Linked DNA regions of Homo sapiens: regions 2 and 3 are each linked to region 1. The links come from fine-mapping of genetic effects on gene expression. A gene starts in region 1. Each other region holds a variant in brackets. All regions are shown on one strand. Distances are between the middles of the regions.

What was found. PIP is the estimated chance that this variant, and not a neighbour inherited with it, causes the effect. A credible set is the group of variants that fine-mapping cannot tell apart.
Region 2: its variant is the best candidate, but not a certain one, in a credible set for the expression of CYRIB in whole blood (TOPMed, PIP 0.86).
Region 3: its variant is the best candidate, but not a certain one, in a credible set for the expression of CYRIB in whole blood (TOPMed, PIP 0.73).

What each region holds. Positions count from the first base shown.
Region 1 is chr8:130,013,845-130,019,988 of GRCh38, reverse strand. CYRIB (CYFIP related Rac1 interactor B) reads left to right here and starts at 3,429. Exons shown (of 14, transcript NM_001353258.2): 1 at 3,429-3,619. RefSeq lists silencers at 3,217-3,276, 3,327-3,396, 3,487-3,676, 3,867-4,136.
Region 2 is chr8:129,955,705-129,961,848 of GRCh38, reverse strand. The region is part of intron 2 of CYRIB (CYFIP related Rac1 interactor B); the gene reads left to right. Among named protein-coding and RNA genes, the nearest start is that of MIR5194, 50 kb to the left of the region's middle. RefSeq lists an enhancer at 2,228-2,728. The variant AGTG/G (reference allele first, on the strand shown) is at 2,568.
Region 3 is chr8:129,894,132-129,900,275 of GRCh38, reverse strand. The region is part of intron 4 of CYRIB (CYFIP related Rac1 interactor B); the gene reads left to right. Among named protein-coding and RNA genes, the nearest start is that of GSDMC, 110 kb to the right of the region's middle. RefSeq lists a silencer at 367-567. The variant A/G (reference allele first, on the strand shown) is at 3,379.

The DNA of each region.
Region 1 (6,144 bases):
GTACATAATAGCACTCTTGCAAATGCTCAGCAGGGAAATGCATTTTGGAGGAATATTTTTGAGGGACTTTTGCATATATGAAGGAAATAGCTATTTTTTTTTTTTTGCTTGAAAGCTGTGTGGACCACATGTGCTATGAAAGCACAGCCTTCTTTTTTAATTTTTAATTTTTAAAATCTTGGTTTTTCAAGATTCTTTGCTTGGCCAATGAAAGCACCAGATTCTAATGTTGAAAGTAAAATGTGCATGCTGCTTTCCAGTTATAAAGCATGAAAAACTCATTTTCTTACATAGTCCTCTCAACAACAGAAGATAATGTTATTATTCCCACTTTACAGATAAGAACATTCAAGAAGTCAGAGGTTAAATGACTTGCCCAGAATTGCACAGCTGAAAATGGCAGGCAGGCTTTCCCAACTCCAAAGACAGTGCTGTCTATAGGATGCTGGACTTCTGCCTACCATTGTCAGGGTTGACATCCCGGGGAAACAGAGCAGTCACTACAGAATTGCCAGAGGTTTCCCCGGGTATTATTCCCAGGTTCCCAATGGCTTGAATTGGTCAAACCTATCAGGATCAGAGTGAGCCTAGGCTCATGCTCTCAGCCTCACTGTATCCAGTGAATGGAGACTTTCTCCTCTGAGACACACACATCAGAGTTAGACTCTCCATCCCACATATTTCAGAATTCAGTAGAGTGCAGGCTAGCAGGCATCCAAGCCCTGCCCTCACCTTCATCTATTCTTCCCTGCTTCCTGGACCCCCAAATTTGCATTCCATGTTACGCTCACATCAAACTATTTACAGATCCCAAGCTTGCCTGAAAGTTCCTTACCTCATGCCTTTAACAATTATTATGGTAGGCCAGGCGCAGTGGCTTGAGCCTGTAATCCTAGCACTTTGGGAGGCTGAGGCGGGTGGAACGCTTGAGTTCAGGAGTTTGAGACCAGCCTGGGCAACATGGCAAAATCTTGTCATCACAGAACAATACAAAAATTAGGCTGGGTGCGGTTTTTGGGAGGCTGAGGTGGGCGGACCGCCTGAGGTTGGGAGTTCGAGACCAGCCTGGCCAACATGGTGAAACTCCACCTCTACTAAAAATACAAAAATGAGCCAGGCGTGGTGGTGCACATCTGTAATCCCAGCTACTTGGGAGGCTGAGGCATGAGAATTGCTTGAACCCGGGAGGCAGAGATTGCAGTGAGCCAAAATTGCGCCACCGCATTCCAGCCTGGGTGACAAAGTGAGACCCTGCCTCAAAAAAAAAAAAAAAAAAAAAGGTAAATTGTAACAGTTATGATAATAGTAACAACAATGGTGATTGCTTTCTCCTGGGTCCTATCCATATTAGGTTCTATATATTCGCTATTTCATTTAACCCTCACCATAACCTAACGAAGTCATTATTATCCATTCCATTTCACAGATGAACAAACTGAGGCTGAGAGTGGCTAAGTGCTTGGGCTCTGGAGTCAGACAATCTAGGTACATACCCAGCTCCACCGCTGTCTAATCTGTGTGATCTTGGGCAAATCTCATCTCTCTTCCAGCTGCAGTATCTTAATGCATGACACTGGGCCATGATAAACCTGCTTCATGGGCCTGCACACACTTGGCACCTGCTTAGTACTTTATAAATGTTCAGAATTGTTAATGCTCATTTTATAAGCGGCTCAGCTCTGCCTGCTTCCAAACCCTTTTCCTGCTTCTCCTCAAGGTCATAGTTCAGGACCCAGTGTTTCCCCACCTACTTCTCAGCCCCCACAGCAAGGTGGACATTAGTTCCCTTCCTTTAGGAATGAAGGCACTGGCGCTCGGGTAAGCTTAGAGAGCAGTCCAGGGAGTACTGCTGAAATGGCACCATCTCAGGGTCCCCAGCTCCGAGAACTGGGCCTGGCCAAGAGAAGGCGCAAGGCACCTTTGTTAAAGAATTGGCGGGCTGGGTGTGGTGGTTTATGCCTGTAATCCCCACACTTTGGGAGGCGGAGGCAGGGAGGATCCCTTGAGCCCAGGAGAAACAGGCCAGCCAGGGCAACACAGGGAGACCCACCTCTACAAAAATCTATAAAAATTAGCTGAGCATGGTGGTGCATACCCGTGGTCCCAGCAACTCGGGAGGCTGAGGTGGGAGGATCGCTTGAGCCCAGGAATTTGAGGCTGCAGTGAGCTATCGCATCACTGCGCTACCTAGCCTGGGAAACAGAGCAAAATCCTGTCTTAGACAAAAAAAAAAAAAAGAAAGAAAAAAGAAAAGAAATGGAACAACTGGCTCCTAATCAGGTAACTCAGCACTGAGTATGATGTGAGCACACTCCAACCCCCCTATAGCTGGAGGTGGAGGTGGAAAGACAATGGAAGCCTTTGATGTAACCCTTTTGATACCCTGCTAGAGGACAGCAGAAAGATACTTGAGAGAATGTTGTCTATCTTCCCGAGAAATTTCTGGTTGAATGTCAAGATAATGATAGGATGGGCTTCTGGGCCAGGGGAGCAAGGCAGAGGGAAGGAGAGTATCAGTTTCCTAGGCATGTCCTGTTACAGGGAGAAAAACACAGTATTTTCCATTCTAGATCAGGGGAAAGATGAGGTCTCCCATAATACCTGAAACTGGAATTATGGCGAGGAGCTTTTTATGTGGGAATTTCTGTACTAAATTTAAAGTCCTTGGAGAACCGCTTAGGGTAGCACCGACAGCCCGCACCGTCCCCTCACCCCGCTTTATTTTTCCTCTGGCACAGCACTTAGCACCATAGGACCCATCAGATATTTACGGCCTGTCCCCGCTGCCCCTCCCGGGCAGGGATTTTGTTTTGGTTCGCAGCTGCAGCTCCAGGGCCTAGAACAGCCCGGGCACTTAGTAGGCCCAGTAAGTATCTGCGGGAGGGCTGAATGGGTGCGTGGACAGCATTCCTCTCACTGACCCCGCTGCGAGGTGAGCCAGGCAGGGGCTGTCACCATTCCTGAAGTCCAGGTGAGGGGGAAGCGACCCAGGGATGGGAACCTGGCCGGCCTGAAGGTCTGGAGACCGGGGTTCGAGCCCAAGCCCTGCCTGACAGGCAGTGACCTTGGGGGTCACTCTTGCGCCTCTCGGAGCCGGGTTTCCTCCTCGCACAATGAGGGCGATGACCCCCAATCGCAGCGCGCCCCGCGGTGACTTGCCCAAGGTCACCACCGTCCCGGGCCCGTGGCGCCCCGGCTCGGGAGGACACGGGCCAGGCGGGCGCGGGGTTCTGGGGTGGGGGCCGGCGCGGGGCGGTCCCGGGGCGCGGCGCGCGCTGACGCCGGGGCCCCGCGATGCGGCGGGGACTGGGCGCGGGGGGAGGCGCGTCGCGAGGCGAGCGTCCTCCTTTTGTGCGAGCGCCGGCGGCTCGGCTTCTCGAAGGTAAACAGCGCTTCCTCTTCCTCCTCGCCGCGCCTCTTCCTTTTATAGTTATTTCTCGCCTGGCACTCGCCCGGGCTGCTGCTGCTGCTGCTGCTGCCGCCGCGGCGGGGGCAGCTCGCAAACCTGTGGCGGTGACGTGAGCCCCGCCAACCCGGAAACGGCGGCGGCGGCGGCACCGGAGGCTCCGAGGCTCCTGCGCTCCCGCGCCGCGCTCCCCTCGCCCGCCCGGGCCGCCAGGTACGTGCCGGGGCTCTGAAGGCGCCGCCGCCCGGCCGGCCCGCGCGCGCGCCCCTGGATCCGATTTGCCCCCGGAGAGGGCGCGGGGTGCGGGGCGCGCGCGTGATGGGTGCGGGGAGAGGCGGAGGTACCATCCGGGCCGCCGGGCCGGGCGCTGCGGCGGGTGGACAGGGGGCGCCGCCGTGGTGGGGGCGTCCGGGCCGGCGGGCGCGGGGGTCCCGGGGGAGGCGCCTCGAGTGCGCGGGGGGCGGCGGGCGGACGCGAGGGGAGCGCGCAGCGGGGCCGCCGCCCGGGTCCACCCAGCTGCGGAGCCGGCGCCTTGTGCGCCTCGAGGCAGGGGGCGCTCGGGTCGGGGTGGCTGGTCCCTGGCAGACCCTTCCTGCGAGCCGGGTGTCGGTGCGGGGACTGACCCCGGGAGCAGCGCTGGCCCCCGGCCACCTCCCATCAGGGGCTTGGAAGACCAGTCGCATTGGATTTGAGGAACTAGAGGGGGTGAACAAAATCTCCACTGGCCTCAAGACTTCCTCCTGGGGTAGCCACCCGCCTGTGTTTAAAGAGCACTTCCTCTTCGCCTTTTATCTTTTCATTATCTTTCTTTTTAAATGGAAGTTCAGTGTTAGCGGGTGGGTGCCCTTGCAGCCTGCAGGGCTTTCCTGGGGCTGTGTACACACACACTGGGGTTGGGAAAAACCTGTGTGTCCTTTGAAACGTGTGTCCTGTGTCAGGAGTGGAACGAAGGAGGAATCGAGGTCTTACCATGCTGGAGCTACTTGGAGTGTGCCTTTGCTACCCACCCTGCTGCAAGAGGTGGAGGGGTGCGGAGGGATAGAGCTGGGGCTGCGGGGGAGTGTCACATGCACTTTGCAGCTATGTTTAATTCCTGGCCCTGCCGCTTACTAGCTGTGTGACCTTGGGCAAGTCGCTTACCCTCTCTGAGTCTTAGGGTCCCGTCTGTGAAATGGGCTGCTGCGAGTGGGGCCTTGAGAAAACGAGCGTAGATTTCCTGGCCTGCAGGGGGCGCAGTGATAGAAAGTGTCATTGCCAGTCACCTTGAATTTCTGCATCCCCAGCACCTAGAAAGGGTGCGTTGAAGCACGTGGGAAGCACCCCATAGATAATTGTGAGATGAACGAGTGGGTGGTGAATTTTGAGAGGTGAGTCGGTGTGCTTCCACATTTTGGCTTCCTTGCCCTGTAACATCCATCCAGGATCTCCAGGGAGCAATTTTGCTATCTGGGTTGGATGGACTCCTCCCCTCTCTGAGGAAGACCATCTTGTGAAAATACTGACTCCCTTGTGAAAAAGGGCTTAAACTCTGACTTTGAGACTCTCCCATTCTTGGAAGATTGCACTGGGGGAAAAATAAAAAGAAGGCGTCATTTTGATTGCCACCGCCAGGTGACTGGCTGAGGCCAACAGCCAAGACTGAGCCAGGGCTGACGTCTGGGATGGTTTCCCAGGCCTGGGGTTCCTGTAATGTGGGGGAAGCCCGGAAGAGGTGACTTTTCTACCTTGGTCGGCATGCAGAAGTGGTCAGCTGGCCTGAGTTTTCTTCCTGAGGAGGCACATTGGAATTTGCACTCTAGATCCTTGCTGGGCTCACAGCACGGAGAAGGGCAGAGTGTGTGATGCAGGAGGCTGAAGTGGGTTCCAGCACAGGGAGACTTGGAAATGGTTTTCAGATAAAGGCCAATATATGTTTCTGCCCTTCACTTTGGGAGATTTTCAAGTAATTTTGCTGTCTCTGACAGCCACCCCTTCTCCTTTCTCAGCTCCCAAAGTCTTCTGTGTGCCTCTCTTAGGATCCTTAGCTATGTGGGTCCCCCAACTCCCGACCCCCGTAAGTGCTACTATTATTTTTAAGAGACAGTGCAGACCCTTCTGTGCAGCAGCGTGCTGCAGTTTGAGCATGTGCAGATTCATTTTGTTTGTGTTTTGACAGGGTCTCACGCATTGCTGAGGTTGAAGTAGTGCAGAAGTAGCGTGATCATGTCTTACTGCAACCTTGACCTCTCAGGCTCAAGCCATCCTCCTACCTCAGCCTCCCAAGTAGCTGGGACCACGGGTGTGCACCACCATGCCCAACTAATTTTTTAATGTTTTGTAGAGATGGGGTCTCTCCATGTTGCCCGAACTCCTGGGCTCAAGGGATCCTCGCTGCCTTAGCCTCCCAAAGTGCTGGGATTACAGGTGTGAGCCACTGTGCCCGGCCCAGATTCATTTTTAATGACTGAACTGTGGAGTGGCCAGGGTTACCTGTAAAGGAGAGCTAGGGTTCTCGTTTTCCTGAGACTTAGAGAGAGTGCAGGACTTGGCCCAAGACCTTCAGTCAGGAAGGGGCAGATTGAGGGTCCTTGCCTAAGTCTTCAGCCTGCAGAGCTCACTTTTCTTCTTGCAGACGCTGAGTGGTCTTTGTGCTTCCTCTGGCACCTGACCTGCTGCCTGGCCCATGCAGGAAACAGTACGTGTCTTTTGACAGAATGGGCAGAAGAATGATGGGTTCCCCTTTGCTCTTTGAGGATGTA
Region 2 (6,144 bases), 58 kb after region 1:
TAGGTCTGCCAGTTTCAGAAGCCCCTTGCATTGCCTGGTATTTGATTTAGCTGCTGCATAGCCAGCAGACTGTACTAAATAATAGGGTTTTGCCATAGTTCTCTTCTGAGATCTTGATTTCATCAATATTTGTTTATCCACTCATTCATCTTCACTCATGTACTCAGGAAATATTCCATTGATTGCCTACCTGGGTACCAGAGATGGACTAGTGAATGATTCAAGCCCCTGCCCTCTTGGAGCTTACAGTCTGGCCAAGTTCCATATTACTTCTAAACGGTTAAATGACAGCCTCTAAGGTTGTACAGATCTATGATAATGGGAGTTGCACTAGTCCCACCCCTCTGTAAGGAGGCAACCAGCAAAACCAAGAAGCTGGATGGCCCAGTTTTATCTATGCTGTCTGCCTAGGATGCTGCTCCTAAAGGGACTGATGGATATTGAGGTATGGGAGGCTTAGGGTGTGCCTCACCTGTTCTCATCCTCCCAGGGCTGGCTCTGCTGGGTGATCTGGGCTGTGTCCCACCACTCTGTCCATATGATGACTCCCGTTTCTGAACCCCAGAGCAGAACCCATGGAATGAAGTAGGGTTAGCTGAACAGGGGGGAAATAAATATTTCTTGAATGAGACCTCCCCCTGGTTCTTTGACATGGCTCCTCCTGCCCAGGGAAATAGGTATTATTGTCTCCATTTTTCAGGGGAAGAAGCCGAGGCTTATTTAGAGTCACGATTTGAGCCCAGCCCTGTCTGATGGCTCCAAAATCATATGGGCTTCCTCTTGACCCTCCTTTGATCCAGGTAGGTCTGGGGAGTAGGGCTTTCAAAGCTTCTGAAATGTGAGGTGATTGGTAAGTTTCCTAGTTTCTTTCTTTCTTTCTTTCTTTTTTTTTTTTTTTTGAGACTGAGTCTTGCTCTGTCGCCCAGGCTGGAGTGCAGTGGCATGATCTTGGCTCACTGCAACCTCCGCCTCCCGGGTTCAAGCAATTCTCCTGCTTCAGCCTCCTGAGAGCTGGGGTTACAGGTGCGTGCCACCATGCCCAGCTAATTATTGTATTTTTAGTGGAGATGGGGGTTTCACCATGTTGGTCAGGCTGGTCTCGAACTCCTGACCTTGTGATCCGCCTGCCTCGGCCTCCCAAAGTGCTGGGATTACAGGCATGAGCCACCATGCCCAGCCTTTTTTTTTTTTTTTTTTTTCTTGAGACAGAGTCTCGCTCTGCCGCCCAGGCTGGAAAGCAGTGGCTTGATCTTGGCTCACTGCAACCTCTGCCTCCCAGGTTTAAGCGATCGATCTTGGCTCACTGCAACCTCTGCCTCCCAGGTTTAAGCGATTATCCTATTCTCCTGCCTCAGCCTCCTGAGTAACTGGGATTACAGGTGCCCGCCACCATGCCCAGCTAATTTTTGTATTTTTAGTAGAGGCGGGGTTTCGCCATGTTGGCCAGGCTGGTCTCAAACTCCTGACCTCAGGTGATCCACCCACCTTGGCCTCCCAAAGTGCTGGGATTACAGGTACGAGCTACTGCGCCTGATCGTGATTTGTTAAGTTTCATTTCATTCATTTATTTTAAAAAGTACTTAAGGAGGGCCTGTGTACAGAAACTCTGTTTGGCCCTGGGTGACCAAGATTGACCAGGGTTTCTGCTCCCAGGGAACTTAAAGTCTGAGTTAAATAATTGGAAGTGTGCAGTCTTTCATTCAGTGATTTATTCAGCCATGCACCAGGATGTATCAGTTAGATGCTTTGAATTGCAAGTGTCATAAATCCCAGTTCAAATGGGATAATTGATAAAAGCAGTTAAGTGGCTCACATAACCAAAAATTGTAGAGGTAGGATAGGTCAGGGCTCCGTCTTCCTTTCCTTAAGATCCTCCCAGCTCTGTACTTCTGTCTGTGGGCTCTTCTCAGATTGACTTCCTTCATAGTCGTGAGAGAAAAGAGCTACCATCTCTCCCTAGAGCCACTGAACAAACTTCCTGAACTTTGTCCTGATTGGATCATTTCAGGACATGCATTCATCTTTCAATTAATTGTGGTGGGAAATGGGATAATACTGATTGGCTTAGACCATTCAGGACCTGCCCTTGGAATTGGAGGTAAGGTGTGCCTGACTGAAGAATGCCTCTTGATGGGGAAGGAGTGGAGTAGATGTGGTAGGATTGGCGTACAAAGATGGGTAAAAGTATTATCTCTTATTAGACACTCACCTTTTTCTTATTTTTTAAAATATTAATAATAGAGATGGGGTCTTGCTAAGTTGCCCAGTCTGGTCTCAAACTCCTGGGTTCAAGCCATCCTCTCACCTCAGCCTCCTAAAGTGCTGGGATTACAGGCGTGAGTCATCACACTGGACCAGAAACTCACCTTCTCTAGTACGGTTCCTGAGAAGGGCATTCACCTAGTCTTAATTGAATGCTAGGTACTCTACATGTATTTTTCAGAGTAAATTCTCATAATGTCCTTGTCAAATAAATAAATATTTCCAGTTTGCAGATGAGGAAACAAGTTCAGAGAGCTGGAGTTGCTTGCAGGCAGTCACACACCACACACACCTAGGAAGCAAGT[AGTG/G]GGGTGTGGCTGTGGCTGTGGCTGGGGCTGCTACACTACTTCCTCTGCTTTTTTGTGATGGGGGTAGAGAAAATAAATTGTTAATAGAGACCTAAAAAGATTTGTTGAATGACTTTTCTACAATAAGCAGGGCCTTGGGAGTAGTTACTGCTTTTCATTTCAAGCTTTTATTAGAGAAATCCTGCCTGCCTTTGTTTTTTTTTTTTTTTTTTTTTTTTTGAGACAGAGTCTCTGTTGCCCAGGCTGGAGTGCAGTGGCATGATCTCGGCTCACTGCAATCTCTGCCTCCCAGATTCAAGCAATTCTCTGCCTCAGCCTCCCGAGTAGCTGGGATTACAGGCGCCCGCCATCACAGCCGGCTAATTTTTGTATCTTTAGTAGAGACGGGGGTTTCACCATCTTGGCCAGGCTGGTCTTGAACTCCTGACCTCGTGATCCACCCGCCTCAGCCTCCCAAAGTGTTGGGATTACAGGCGTGAGCCACTGCTCCCGGCCTCTTTTTTTTTTTTTTTTTTAAACCAGTGGTAGATGGGAGGAAAACTCTGCTTCCAGGTTCAGGTAAATAACAGAAATTGAATGAGCTCGAGAGAAAAAGCAGAACCATTGTCAACTGACAATGTCTCCAAAGAGATGATTGCATCAGATAATTTCACAGAAATGGTTTCTCTCCCCTTTTGACTTTTCTGCCCGAGGCTGCCATTAGGTTTTAAAGTAATAGAGTAGCTATTATGTAATTGTATACAATGCTTCCTTCCCTTGGGCCCATGTTAACTTGTGCCTTCAAAATACAGAATACAGTTTTTTTGGTAAAGAGTTTATGTAAAGCCAGTGTGATTCCTAAATTAAACTGCCAAAATGAGGGCAAACAAGCTGGGTTTTCTGGTTTTCTCCAGATTCTGCAGAGACGTAACATCCGACAGATCAGGAAGATGATTTGCCAAAAGTCATTTGTGTGCTGGTGCAGAATGTTTTCACACTGCTCTGCCCCCAGTGTGTGTGTACACACTTCACTGCCCAGTGGAAAGGCTCTTTTTTCTTCATAGGTCCCCCAACCTCACCTACTTCCATTCCACCCCAGCAGATACAATTTTATCCAGGGAGAAATTAATATTTTTTTTCCCCAGAGACAGAGTCTCACTCTTTGCCCAAGCTGGAGGGCAGTGGCACGATCTTGGCTCACTACAACCTCCATCTCTCGGGTTCAAGCGATTCTCATTCCTCAGCCTCCCAAGTAGTTGGGATTACAGGCGTGTGCCACTTGGCTAATTAGCTTGGCTAATTTTTTGTATTTTTTGTATTTTTTTTTTTTTTTTTGAGATGGAGTCTCGTTCTGTCGCCCAGGCTGGAGTGCAGTGGCGCGATCTCGGCTCACTGCAAGCTCTGCCTCCCAGGTTCACACCATTCTCCTGCCTCAGCCTCCTAAGTAGCTGGGACTATAGGCACCCGCCACTATCCCTGGCTAATTTCTTGTATTTTTAGTAGAGACGGGGTTTCACCATGTTAGCCAGGATGGTCTTGATCTCCTGACCTCATGATCCACCTGCTTCGGCCTCCCAAAGTGCTGGGATTACAGGCATGTGCCACCACGCCGGCCAATTTTTTTTATTTTTAGTAGAGATGGGGTTTCACCATGTTGGCCAGGCTGGTCTGGAACACCTGACTTCAAGTAATCCGCCCACCTCCACCTCCCAAAGTGCTGGGATTACAGGTGTGAGCCATCGTGCCGGCAATAAAAAAATTTGAAATTCAAATGGTGGTTGGTGACAAGTTGATAAATAAGGTTTTCAGCTTAGATGCTGTGCTTTTTGAGTTCTTGTGTCTGCTTTTCTTCTAGGTTATTACTGATGATAACTGATTTAACTATCCAAATTTCTACCACATTGTGTGCTGTGTTTTAAGTCTTGGGGACAGAGAATTGAGCAAAGTACAGCCTTAAGTACTGATAGCCTTTAGTGGCCTTCTTCTAACCAGATTTCCCCTAAGTCTGTCCACATTGGTGTCATCTTTGGGTGCTGATTTACTCTGGGCCAGGCAAACTTTACCTGGACTTGGGGAAAGGTATGAAGTAGAAGAAAATAGAACATGAGAAAGGTCTGAGGATAAAATGCAGAGGCTTAGGCCATGCACAGTGGCTCATGCCTGTAATCTCAGCATTTAGGGAGGCTGTGGTGGGAGGATTGCTTGAGCCCAGGAGTTTGAGGTCAGTCCTAGCAACACAGCAAGACCCTGTGTCTACACACACAAAAAGAAAATAGAAAAGAAAAGAACAAAAATCAGCCAGGCACAGTCGTGTGTGTCTGTAGTCCCAGCTACTTGGGAGTCTGAGGTGGGAGGATCACTGGAGCCCTGGAGGTCAAGGCTGCAGTGAACCATGGTCATGCTACTGCACTCCAGCCTGGGTGACAGAGCAAGAGCCAAGAAAGAAAGAAAGAAAGAGAGGCTGGGGGGAGGGAGGGAGGGAGGAGGGAGGAAGGAAGGAAGGAAAAATAGGCTTAAATGTCAAGTAAAGACTGAAAAAGAAAAAAGAATAGGCTTAACTGTCAGGTAAAGACCAGAAAAACAGGGCTTCTGGGCTCATTGTGACCCTGCAGGGGTGATCAATTGGTTTTCATTAGGGATGAGATTCAGGGGCTCTGTTACCACAGCATAACCCAGCTCACCCTAAGTGATATAACCACTACTGTCATACAGGGAGCATGATTCATGGAACTTGGGAGCAGGTGTGTGTGTGTGTGTGTGTGTGCAAACACAAAGACATGTATGTGTATATATGAATCTTGCTGCCTCTTGAGGCTGGTTTCCAAACTTGTCTACACTTTGGAATCACCTGGCAATCTTTTAAAATCCCAAGCCTAAGGTCATACACTAGATGAATTACTTCATAGACTCTAGGGGTGGGACACAAGCATTAGTTTTTTTAAGCTCTCCAGATGATTCTAATGTTCAGGACAAGTTAAGTTCAGGAATCACTGCTCTGTGAGAATTATAATATCATTATTATTATTATTTGAGAAGGGGTGGGGATAATGGAAGTGACAATGGTAGTAGCCATCATTATTATTTACTGGCTGCTACCTATATGCCAGGCAGCATTCTCGATGTTTTACAAAGATAATCACTTCTGATTCTCACTGCGCTCCACGAGACAGTTTTGTAGGTGGTTGGAGAAGGAAAGGAGAGGGTCATATCTTTCAAACTTATGTAAGCCACAGAGTTGGCTAACCAGATTGTCAGGTGAAAATGAGAAAGATGGGGCTGCTGGGCTTACCTTCTTGACCCCAGAGGGACCATTGTGGTCATCCTTAGGGCTGAGATTTAGGTGTTCTTTGTTACCACAGCATAACCTATCCCATCCCGATGGATGCAACCATCCTTTTAATAACCACAGTGGATTCAGGCATTGGTGCTTAGAAGCACATTTTGCAACATTATAAATTGAGGGTGAGTTTATTTTGGCTTGTGGCTTGGAAGGAGAAAAGAGTGCAGTAAACCAGGCTATTAATCTTGGGTTTGTTGGTTCATCCATCAACACCGCTTTGTATGTGTCTCAAGGAATCAGATTTAATAAATTAAT
Region 3 (6,144 bases), 120 kb after region 1:
CCTGATGCCATGTTTTAAAGAGGTTCTCAAAAGCTGCACTGCCAGAGTCAGTGGATTAAGCCCCACATTTTTTTTTTACTCATTTGCTGCTTTGTCCAAGTCACCAGGTTGCTCTAGTCTTTATTTCCCTTCTTTCATAAAATTAGGGAGTTGAGCTCGTTCAAGTCATTTCACAAACCCTTTAGTCTGGGCTCAGATTTTCTATCCTTTGTCATCCCCTTTCTCCGTTTTTTTAGCACCTTTAGACATGTGGTAGTGAAAGTCTTCAGAATCAAAATGGAGTTACTAATGTTAAGGAAACCCAGGGAAGCTGTGTACAGAGCCAGGGAAGGCTGTGAAGAGAGTGTTCTCACACTTGTATGCCTGATAATGAAAGAGACTACAAAGACCATATCCTTACACAAAGGCCATCACCACCTTACACAAAATAGTACTTCTGCAAGGACATCTGCCCAGCAACTGCCTGTTCAGCCTCCAACTGGTGTCACCCTTGTTATTGATCTTTGTAGCTAAGGATATTTATTTCAAAACTATTATATAACCCTTGTTTCTCCTTTAAAAACCTTTGTCTTCCTTTACCTCCCTGAATATGTATGGCATAGTTTACTATGTTATGCATATTCCTATTGCAATGCTCTGTTCTGAAATAAACATCTTTTCTTTGTGATCCTCTCTCTGTTATGTAGGTTGACAGTAAAAATTCAAAGTGGTTTAGTGATTTGAACTTTGCTTTATATAAACATTTCCTTTTTATATGCTTTGTGAAACTAGAAGGTGTAATAATTAATGGCATACTTAGTTAAAAAAATTTATATGATATGCACATACTGCATTTGGTCCTAATAATGATCTCAACATTTCATTTACAATTAGCTTATTCCACAGTATTAAGAAAACATAGGTTTCTTCCTATTTTATATAAATCAGCCTTTAAAATAAAACAAACCAGCTTTTGCAAAATTATTTACAAAGATACCTGGCCTTGTCATTTGTCATTTGAAAATAATTATGGGACCTGCTTTTTAAATTTACTGAGGGGGATCTCTTTCTGCTGTAAAATTTTACTTCTTTCTGAAGTAAAATTGTATTTTAAAAAATGATATAATGAAAGGCCAGGTGCAGTGGTTCATGCCTGTAAATCCCAGTACTTTGGAGGCTGAGGCAGGTAGATCACCTGAGGTGTCAGGAGTTCGAGATCAGCCTGGTCAACATGGCAAAACCCCGTCTCTACTAAAAATACAAAAATTAGCCGGGCCTGGTGGCACATGCCTGTAATCCCAGCTACTTGGGAGGGTGAGGCACGAGAATCACTTGACTTGGGAGGCAGAGGTTGCAGTGAGCCGAGATCCTGCCACTGCACTCCCCAGCCTGGGCGACAGAGTGAGACTCCAAAAAAAAAAAGAAAGGCAAAGTAAAACTGTATATATTCAGTTATAATTACCACCTCCTTGGCAACATCAGAATGTAAATGAATGACCTCTGCTGGACTCTTTTTAGCACTGTAAGAGATACTGATTTATTAATGTAGAAAATTATTCAAGTACATATCTTTAAAATTCTATTACCAAGAGAAGAAAAATATGTTTTTGTATTCTGTTTGGTTATGATAAGCCTGGAGGAGATAGATTTAAGAGAATGATTTTAATTTTAGTTCAGTTAAATTAAGTTCAAGAACCAGGAAAACATTTGTGCCTTTTGTAATTTCACTTGTATTAAATTCCGTTAGTGTACAAGGCTCAAACAGAAAGACCTGACAAACTGTTGAAAACTATTTAAGAACATTTCTTAACATCCGTCTTCTTTTCCTAATAAGCATACATTTTTCTTTTTTAAATTTATTTTACTTTTAGCTTCTGCATCCAACCATCCATAACATACTTACTGCTTTTCTTAAAAAAGTTTTTTCCAGTGAAATTTTTTTTCTAACTTAGAAGTTTTAGTACTAATTTCTTTTAGGAACACTTGAAATTTTTCTTAATTGTTTTTGGATGAATTGTATGTGCCACAATAAACGTTCATTTATTAACTTAACATTAGCACTAACGTCATGCAAAGCCCTCTGCAGGGTGCTTTGGAAACAGAAGTTAAGATCACAGGGAAAAAAGTTTCCACTGCCCTTGGTTCTTTAGCCTATAATGTTTAACAAGGTCTTTGTGATGAGTATTCCTTTAAAAAAAAAAACAAAAAAACTTAAAAAAAATTTTTAGATTGGGGCCAGGCACAGTGGCTCACGCCTGTAATTCCAGCACCTTGAGAGGCCGAGGCGGGTGGATCACCTGGTCAGGAGCTCAAGACCAGCCTGGCCAACATGGCGAAACCCCATCTCTACTAAAAATACAAAAATCAGCCGGGCGTATTGGCAAATGCCTGTAATTCCAGCTACTTGGGAGGCTGAGGCAGGAGAATCACTTGAACCCAGGAGGCAGAGATTGCAGTGAGCCAAGATTGCTCCACTGCACTCCAGCCTGGGTGACAAGAGTGAAACTCTGTCTCAAAAAATAAAAATTTAGATGGAGTTTCGCTATGTTGCCCAGGCTGGTCTCGAACTCCTGGGCTCAAGCAATCCTCCCACCTCCACCTCCCAAACTGCTGGGATTATAGGCATTAGCCGCCCACCATGCCTCTCCCTACCTAGAAAATCACTTATAAACTCTACTCAGAAGCTAAATTCTTGGCTGGCATTACTAGATAGGAGATGTCTTGTTTGTACCTTTGCAAATGTGAACATACATAATCTGATGGGTAACTTTATTTTGACCTCATTTGACTGTTGTTTTAAGATACTTCATATATTTAATGGTTTGTTAAGTAGCACAGGGATTGTGTTTAGTTTATTTCTAGGAGGCCAAAGAGAATTTAAACCAAGGAGGAGATGTTAACAAATGGGTGAATTTCAGTTTAATACAAGGATTGTATGGTTTTCGAGGGTAGAATTCATGTCTTAATTGTGCTTATTCAGTCATTGTCTTAAGTTTCTACAAATTTTTCTAAAAATTGACCAAAGTCTAAAATTTAAGTCATGTAGAGTATTTAAGCAGTGGTGAGATGGCTACTTGGTGTGGATATGTTGTAGAATAGATTCATACTAAGGTTAAATAGTCAAGGGTGAGTCTTCCATTTGACCGTGAATGGTCCCTTCCTGGTCTGAGATTCTCTTATTTATTGGTAATGGGATATAAAGCCATTCTGCCTGTTGTCTTTCACTCTTCACAGTGACTATAGTGTTGAGAAGAGCCCCTAGTCAACCCCAGAAATTAAGGGATACTTAACTTCAGAGAATACCTTATCTTTTAACTCAAATTATGAGAGAAAGCAGAACAATTTTTAAGAATCTCTTATCCATTTCAGTCATAGTGAGGTGACTAGGAATGACACTTT[A/G]CTTCTATATGCCAAATTCTGGCAGATTTCCTTTCAATTGTAGGCCTCCTGTTTCCTGCGCTTTCTCCTTTTCCTGTGAAATCTCCGAGGAGAAGAAAGAATGATGGACAGTTTATCCTTTCACTGCCACAAGGCCTGTTTACTTGGCAGTAGGTCCTTAAGTTCCTTGCTTTTTTGCTGCTGTTTGGTGACTGGAAGAGGCACCAGAGACTCTCACTCTGGGGAGGTGGGTGGCATGTTTATAAGTAATGGATGAGAATGTCTCTGTAGCCCTTAGTTATTCTCTGTGCAAAAAGCAGAAAACTAAAATTGCTACTTCTGAAGATGACTGTTGGTCATCAGGATTTTTAAGGATTTGAACTCTCATTGCGATAATGCATAAGAACATGGGAAACACCATTGAAGATTAGCTCAGAGGTGGTAAAGAGTATTGTGGGAAAATATCATTGCTGTCCAGGCCAGCTTTAATGTTTTAGCAGTAAACCTTTGCCTGTTAACCTTGTCCTTGATTTTCTTGATGTTTATAGATCTTGTATTTGAATTATCCCTTCGTAGGTAAGACTAAGGGATTATTCCATAAACTTAGTCCCTAATTTATTAAGTTGCACTTTGTTTAATTTGACCTAAACCTACTCTTTTTATGGGATGCCCTTAGTTTAGGTATTCTCTTTTTGGATAAATAAGCTGCTTTTTACTTGAATTGTTCATTTATTAATTTGACAAATATTTATTGAGTACTGGCTGTGTGACAGAATGTCTGTTAGGCTGGAGTTTCAAAAATGAAACAGATGTAGACTTCTTAGATGTTTGGAAGAACTTTCCTATAAAACTCACTGAGTAATTGACACATTGTATTGTTTATAAATGGTTCTAAATAATAGAAAAATCTATGTATAAAAATAGGCTTGACAGCAAAACCAGACAGGAACAGAGAAAAAAATTACAGGTCAGTCTTACAAAATAATCCAAGGTGAAATGTTAGCAAAACCAAATCTAGGAATATATATTTTTAAATGATCAAATAAACCAGGTGCAGTGGCTCACGCCTGTAATTGTAGTTGTAGCACCTTGGGAGGCTGAGGTAGGAGGTTTCCTTGAGCCTAGGAGTTCAAGACCAGCCTGGGCAACAGAGCAAGACCGTGTTTCAAATTTATTCATTCACCCTCATTCATTTATTCATAAATAAATAAATACATAAATAAATAACCAACCAAGCAGACTTGATCTCAGGAATGCAAGAATGGTTTAGCAACAGAAAATGAATTTATGTAATCTGTCATATTCATAGATTAAATGACAAAATGATTGAAATTATAGAGATGGCAATTATATATTTAATGCAAAATCAAATCAAAATCCCATCAGAATTTTTTTGTAGAATTTGACAATCACATGAGTGAATAAAAGGGCAAGAATAAGGCAATTTTGAAGAATTATTATTTAAACAGTAAGCACAGACCATGAAGAAAAATGAAAAACTGGACTGTTATGACAAACAACACCATAAACAAAGTTAAGATATGTTAGATCCTAGAAGAAAGTATCTGCCTTGTATATAAGCATTAAAAGGGTGGTATCCAGAATTTCTAAAGCTGCCAGGTATGATGGCTCATGCCTGTAATCCCAGCACTTTAGGAGGCCAGGGTGGGGGAGGATTGCTTAAGGCCATGAATTTGAGACCAGTCTGGGCAACACGATGAGATCCTGTCTCTACAAAAAAAAACAAACAACAACAGTATTCCCCCTGCCCCTGCCCCCACCCCCACCCCCACCCCCACCCCAACCCCGCCGACACACACTAGCATGATGACACGGGCATGTAGTCCCAGCTACTCAGGAGGCAGAGGTGGGAGGATCGATTGAGCCAGGGTGGTTGAGGTCGCAGTGAGCCGTGAGCACACCACTACACTCCAGCCTGGGCGAAAAAGAGCAAGACCCTGTCTCAAAAAAATAAATTAATTAAAAAAATATATATATATATATATTTCTAACACTCAGTTTGAAAAAAGAGTGGTATGACAGTTGAAGTTAAGTTAGGAAAACTTACCACTCTGGATATTTCAAACAATTTAATATAGAAGATTGGTTACAAAGATACTAGAAAAGCTGGAAGAGCAAAAGGAACAAGGGAGAGAACAGAGTAGCAAAAATAAAATAAGAAATTATGATGCTGCTTTTACCAGAGACAAGCTGCTGCCACCACTAGGCTGGAACCTACAGGCTGCACCTGTCCCTAATTAGGGTATTGGATACTATTCACACTGCTCCTACAACAACTGCTAGCCTGTTCTAATCAGTAACTTCTCTCTTCCTCCTGTCTTCTCACCCTCCAGTTCCTCCTAACAGGAACCCAGCTGGCAAAGATGTCTGGGAAATGTCATTTGCATTCTCAGCCCCAGCAGTGCAGAAAGGTAGGAGTGGGGCTGCGAAACAACAGAAAAATAAGGACCATAGGTGACAAAGGAAATGCATATACACTTCACAGATGGCCCATAAACATATAATACAAAGAGGTGCACATTTTTACTGATAAGAAAATACAAATTTAAACATCAGTGAGACATTTCAGACTCTAAAAATTAAACTTGAGGTTTTGGAGGACAGGAAATAGGAAATCTTTGTACCTGTGGAACAGAATTGATGGAAGCACTTGGGAGAGCAATTTAGCACCATGTATTAAAGTTACAGTTGCCTTTTCATTTTCAGACAGCTGTCCTATAGGACTCTTGTACATGAGCTTAAGTATATGTAGTGTGTGTATGGAGG